2 linked regions of the Homo sapiens genome follow. The protein of the gene in region 2 purifies or fractionates together with the protein of the main gene of each other region. This does not show direct contact. Each region holds a gene or a part of one and is shown on either strand. Other genes may lie near its edges.

Region 1 (3,500 bases), on a different chromosome or scaffold from region 2:
TACATTATACAGCCTGATTTATGGATTGGAAGGATCTAGTGTAATTTTCACATTTACCTTGGGCTAGAGGAAATGACTAATATCGCAAAAGAAATGCAGGGATCAGAGGCAAGAGGAGGGGACTGGACACCTGGGACTATGAGCTGAAGAAAATAGGAAGAGAGATAGGCTCAGCCTGGGGAAGAGAATACTGGAAAAGGTTGAATTCGTTGAGTAAAACACATTAGCCTCAAGGTATCTAGAAGTTCATTGAGAGGTTGAGCTGCAGAAACAGTGTGATTTAATCAGGCTTAAGTCATCGGTAATAACCCTAAATAAATAAATAAACCCTAGCCAGTGCACAGAAAGCATTAAACACAATTATAGTCTGATGGCTCTCCTTTGGTCTCAGCAGGAGAACTGCATTCAGAAACACCAGGTTGATAATTCACTCCCTTTGCAAATATTTATTGCTTTGCCATAGCACCAAATCCTTTAAGACATGTTAATGAATAAATTTCTCAGTAATGCTAAGAGAAGTTTCAGTCAAAATCTCTAGTGTACCTTTGAGGACATTTATGTGTGTGTGTATGTGTGTGTGTGTGTGCGTGGTGTGTGTGTGTGTGTGTGTGTGTGTGTGTGTGTGTGTGCGGAGGGGGAGGGTAAGTGGCATCCAACATAAGCAAAGTGACTTCCAAAGCTGCCCTCAGTCCCAGAGTTCTATCTTGACAGGGGGACAAAGGGATGGTTTTAAGTGAGGATAGGCACCCTTACCCACTTGGTGCATACATGGACACCCAGGATGAGATGGTCAATACCTCAGCCAAGAGAAGCTCTGATTTCTTTGACTCCCTTGCTGGTTAATTCAACCCAACCCAAGTAATTATAGGCTGGGGTCTTTAATTTTTGACTTAAAAGGATGAAGGAAGGGGCCCTTTTAGTGTCTCCATATATTCACAGCCAATAACCCCCATAACCCTAGAAATGGTCTCTTGACTTAGCAGTTCACCAGATTCACTGGCACCTTGCAGGAGGTCACTGCCTTTGAGTCAGATGTTTTCCATAACTTGTCATGTACTTTAAAACTGTCAGACAAATGGTGGTGTGGAAATGTGTGAAGCTATATATTTATGATTTCACTCATCCAGTCTCCTCTGGAGAGTCAGCTGTGTAGCCCTATTAGGACTTTGGACTTTTTTGCTCCCATCTCTTAAACCTCTTAAGCCTCTGGAGTATGAGTATGATTAACCGTCTCCAGATGAAAATGAACATGATGACTGACAGCTATAGTATCATATAGCACCCAAGAACTTTCCAGAGGGCCCAGCCTCAGCCAAATCTATGTTGAGCACCTTCCAGTGGTACATTTTAGTCACTCCACTCTCTCGTTGGGCTGAATATGGAGTAATGGAAAAAGCGCAGCTGATGTGATGTCAGTCAGGATGGGGTCCCCAACACTTCCTAGTTGTGCACTCTAACCTCCCTTGGCTTCAGTTTCTTCTTTGCAAAGCAAGGGTGATAATAAGAATACCTATCTTGTGGGGTTGTTGTGGGGCACAAATCAGATGATGGATAAAAAGTGTTCAACCCATGGCCAGGTGCGACGGCTCATGCCTGTCATCCTGACACTTTGGGAGGCTGAGGCAGGTGGATCGCTTGAGATCAGAAGTTCAAGAGCAGCCTGGACAACATGGTGAAACCCCATCTCTACTAAAAATACAAAAATTAGCTGGGCGTGGTGGCACATGCCTATAATCCCAGCTACTAGGGAGGCTGAGGAAGGAGAATCGCTTGAACCTGGGAGGCAGAGGGTGCAGTGAGCTGAGATCGCACCACTGCACTCTACCCTGGGTGACGGAGAGAGTGAGATTCCGTCTTAAAATAAAATAAAATAAAATAAAATAAAATAAAATAAAATAAAATGCTGATCCCAGAGCCTGGAACATAGTAAGCACTTGATAAATTTCTGTTATTATTAAGCCCCTAATCTTACGGAATAGAAGCGAGAACAAGAAGGAAAGAGCAAAGAGGAAAAGAGGAAAAAATTGCTGAGAGAAAGAGACTAAAAAGAGGAATAGAAGCTGAAGAGGAAAAAAAAGAGAAAGTATCAAGGGCAACCATCTAGGAACTGAGCTGTGATTATGATATGACATGAGCACTGCTGGGGGCCTGTGATTCAAGGATAAGATTTCCTGCTGGTTGGAAGGAGGCTTCCAGTTGTGGCAAATGCCAAATGTAGGAGATTTATGCTAACACCCAGTAAAGCTGCTGCTGCCTCTGCAGAGGCCCGCTGAGAGCAGGATATTTATCGTCGTCAAGAGTGATGACTTAGGAGTCACACAGACCTGGATTCAAATCTCAACTAGGCACTTAAAAGCTGTGTGACCTCAGGGAAATCACTTAATGTCTCTGAGTCTCAGCTTTGCCTTCTCTAAAGCAAAGATAATGCACTAGGTGACACCTGAGTCCCTTCTAGGTCCTAGAGTCTATAGGGAGGAATCTTCTCTTTTCCTTCTCAAACAGGCTTCAGAAAACAAAGCTGTTAGGATAATTAAATGTTAAGAAAATAGCTGCCCACCTCCAAGGACTCTTCACTTCTGCTAGAAAGACATCAAATGCTCTTCTTTGCTAGACTAAGACTTCCTTGTCCTGATTTTGCCAGCATTTTCAATGTCTGCTGCCAGAGCTCAGTGCCTCCTGCACTTCCTGCTGCCTGGCACTTGGAGCTGGATGAGGTGTGTCGCACCTTTACACAGTTGGGTTCCCATCCTGCCACAGCTTCCAAGGGCTATTTCCTACCAGCTGGGGGCCTAGAGGGAAAGCTGGCTTCACAGCCAAGCAGGGTGCAAATTCGCTGGAACTAAAAACCTGCTTTAGGGTGAGGGGATAAGGAATGAAATCATGGAAGCACAGCTGAAAGGGCAGAAATGAAACAAGCTGTGGGCTGGAGATGATCTAATGTCTACCTCCCTTCTCTTTAAGAAGGCTGCATTTTCAAAAGCATTTTATATATATTTGTATCTTCTCAGTGCAAAAGCAAGCTTCTGCCTGGGTTTTCTCCTCTTCTCCAGGGCTTCCTGACTCAAGAAGGAATATATTAAATGACACTTTACTGTATTATATTAAAATATTAAATGACATTTGATTATCATATCTATTAGCAATGCATCCCTCCCAGGTATCTTAAAATTCTTGTGTTTGACAATGTACTTGCTTTAGTAGTTAGAGAATAAATTAGTGAGAAGGTGGATTCATCTCAATGAAACATATGAGCTATGGTAAAAGAACTGGATCATAGCCAGTGTGACTACACAGCTCGGATTTTCTAAGACTGTTCCAATTGTAAATATTCTGTCCCATGGTCTGTGTAATAACTCTTGAACTTGTCTCAATTTGGGTTCAGAAAAGCTGGCTAGTCATAAATGATATCCCCAAGGTTGATCTGGATACTTACATACAAGAAAATGGGGAAAGAATTGGACCAGATATAAAGGGAAAGAGAAAGATTCTAAAAAAAATAA
Region 2 (2,828 bases):
GAAAAAGTTTATCTGTATTTCGTGGAGACTGATGGCCAGCTCCCTTCTGCCCAGGACTTCTGGAGAAGGCCAGCCCTACCACTTGCTTAAATACCTCCCATCTCCAGCCCTTCAGTAAATATTTAAGTGATTTGTTAAATATTTAAACCTTAAGAAAATTGAGTAACCCAGTGGAACTTGAATTTAACTAGAATTTAAGTTTGAGAATAGCTGGTCAGTAGAACAAATGTGACATACTATGGGTGACATAGATTGGGTGACATACTATGGCTTTTAAGGGGTTTTGTTTTGTTCTGTTTGTTTTCTTAAGCAGAGTTAACAATAATTTGAATAAAGAAGGAAAACATTAAATGCTTGGCATGTGTAATGTGAATGCTATTCCATAACTTGTTCAGCCATAGCCTCAATTTGACATGCTAGGCTATGAATCCTAAAGACTGGTATATGGTTACCGCACTGGAGTTACTTTTCTCATTCCAACAACTACAGAACATTTTGAATAGTTTTTTAAAATTTTATTTTAACGAAAGTTAAGAAAAAACCCTTACTTATACACTAAAGAAAATAAACATAAAATGGTCTCCCGCCTGACTCACAAAAGTCCCATGGCCTGATCCTGGCCAGCAGGAGCAGTTGGTGATGAGGATCCAGGGCAAGATGCAGCTGAGCTGCCAGCCTCCTAGATGTGGTTCCCTGGTGTCTACGGTCTGGGTGAGGGATGGTGCAGAGCCGGTGTTCTGGCCAGCATCCCGGTGGGTTCCCAGCCACTGCAGGATGTTGCCAGCCTACGGGTTTTCGGGCTCCAGCTGGCAGGACAGCTTGTAGCTGCAGGACAGAGAAGCAGCTGTGAGGCCACCATGAGCCACACATCAGGTCCCCTGTCAGTGCCTGCCCAGCTGGAATCCTGGGTCCCCAGTGGTCCCCATGCAACAGGGCTTGATGCTGGCCGTGGAGGCATGGCCATAGGCTCTCTGCAGCTGGCCACGGGAGAGCCTCCTCTAGGCCAGGTGGGGTGGCTCACACCTGTAACGTCAGTACTTTGGGAGGCTGAGGTGGGTGGATTGCTTGAGGCCAGGAGTTTGAGACGATCCTGGACATCATCGTGAAACCCCATCTGTACCAGAACAACAACAGCAGAACAACCGGACATGGTGGTGTACAGCGGTAGTCCCAGCTGCTTGGGAGGCTGAGGAAGGACTTGAGCCCAGAAGGCAGACGTTGCAGTGAACAGAGATGGTGACACTGCAGTGCAGCCTGGGCGACAGAGCCAGACCATGTTAAAAAAAAAAAATGGAGAGCCTTCTCCCACCCTCAGCCCATGGGCTAGGCCCTCACCTCTCTTTGTCACTGAGCTGCTCCATTCTTGTGAAATAGGTGACAAATTTCTCAAGAGGCCGAAGCCTGTAATTCATGGCAGCCACTTGGAGCAGCTGCATTTCCTGCAGAACTCGGACCTCCTAGAGACAGAGGACAGGATGCTGACAGGGCCTGGGTGGAAGTTGCTGTGGGGGCCTTTGGCAGGCAGGGAGAAGGGGCTGGTCCCTGGGGCAGTTTTCTGAAGGGGTCCCATGCAGCGCCCCCAGCCTGTTCTCAGAGTTGGATATAAACAGCCCCTCCTGCAGGAATTGGTCTTTGATTCCAGTGCTTTTCCCATTTTCTCCTGGGATAGGTCCCCTCCTCCTGTGTGTGTCAAACACTCCCAGTAAGCCTAAGATGTAGAGGATGGAGCCAGGGAGTGTCCTGCCCAGGGTGGACTGTGACGTCCACATCCCCACCCTCATCCAACGTGAGTGCCCCAGCTGCTCACCTTGCTCCTCTTGTTGGTGTTGCCCTGGAAGGCAGACAGAGTCCATCAGAAAGGCCCCTGGCCCACAACCAGCCCCACCCCACCCCTTCCCATGCTGCACTACTGCCAGGGCCACCAGGGTCAGGGGATGTGCACACGACAGGACTTGGACCTGCCTCAGGCTCCGGGCTCTAGAGCAGGGGGAATGGGAGCTGAGGCCCAGGGACCTTCTGCCCCAACCCTCTGTGATGACAGACAGGGAAACTGAGGTCTCTCATAGAAAGAAAGCGCTCAGTGACCTTGGAACTGCCTGCCCTTGGAGAGGCTCAATTTCACCCTCCTATTACGGGACTACCCTAGGGAGAAGCTGAGCCCAGTTCAGCCCACACCTCAGCAGCTTTGCAGTCAGGCAGCTCTGCAGCTTCACCACTCAGGAATAGGGCCTGGTGGCTGCCATGGAGCCTCCATCACTCAGAGGTGATGAGATGGGCCTGACACCCCCACCCACAGGAGCAGCTGTGAGGCTCTTAGGAGAGGAGGTTTGCCAAGGGCTGAGATCTAAAGGCTCGGTCCAGGACCCTCTCCTCCCAAGCTTCAGGATCTTGGTTCCCAAGCACCCTGCCCCAGGCTCACTCACATCCAGGTCGTCCGGGATGGCCGAATCCAGCCTCTGTAACTCAGTCAGAAAATCCCCCAGGAAGGGGACCACACCCTGTGCCAAGGAGGGGTGGGGAGGTGGGAGGGGTAGTGGTGATGAGTATTGGCCCTCAGGTGCCTGCCCAAGGTCCTGTCCCATGAAATCCCATCAGCCCCTGTCTCCCAGAGCCCCCTCCTCAGGTCTCCCGGTTGGAGCAGCCAAAGACCCTCAGCTGCCTTTCCCAATTCTCTGCCTCCTGTATCCCAGCTGACCTCCAAGTCTAGCAAGCACTCCTTGTTAACCTCTATGGTGGGATTTTAACAAGTCACAAAGGCCTGTGGTCCCAGCTTTACCCTTCCCCACATCTAGTCTGAGTCCAGCTTTCCCAGACCCTTCCTCTGGTCT

What was found. Proteins that work in one complex are often made in the same cells at the same time.
Region 1: the proteins of RGL4 (region 2) and DCX purify together in Homo sapiens (affinity purification with mass spectrometry; 2 studies listed by BioGRID and IntAct, with this or other methods). This does not show direct contact.

The regions. Positions count from the first base shown.
Region 1 is NC_000023.11:111,402,193-111,405,692, forward strand, and holds part of DCX (neuronal migration protein doublecortin), read right to left. Parts: intron 1-3,500. UniProt on the Homo sapiens protein: Microtubule-associated protein required for initial steps of neuronal dispersion and cortex lamination during cerebral cortex development. May act by competing with the putative neuronal protein kinase DCLK1 in binding to a target protein.
Region 2 is NC_000022.11:23,696,841-23,699,668, reverse strand, and holds the end of RGL4 (ral-GDS-related protein), read right to left. Parts: intron 2,499-2,828; coding exon 2,424-2,498; intron 1,832-2,423; coding exon 1,808-1,831; intron 1,458-1,807; coding exon 1,336-1,457; intron 1,115-1,335; coding exon of another isoform or gene 1,024-1,114; intron 826-1,023; coding exon 786-825; coding exon of another isoform or gene 556-785; 3' UTR 501-555; downstream 1-500.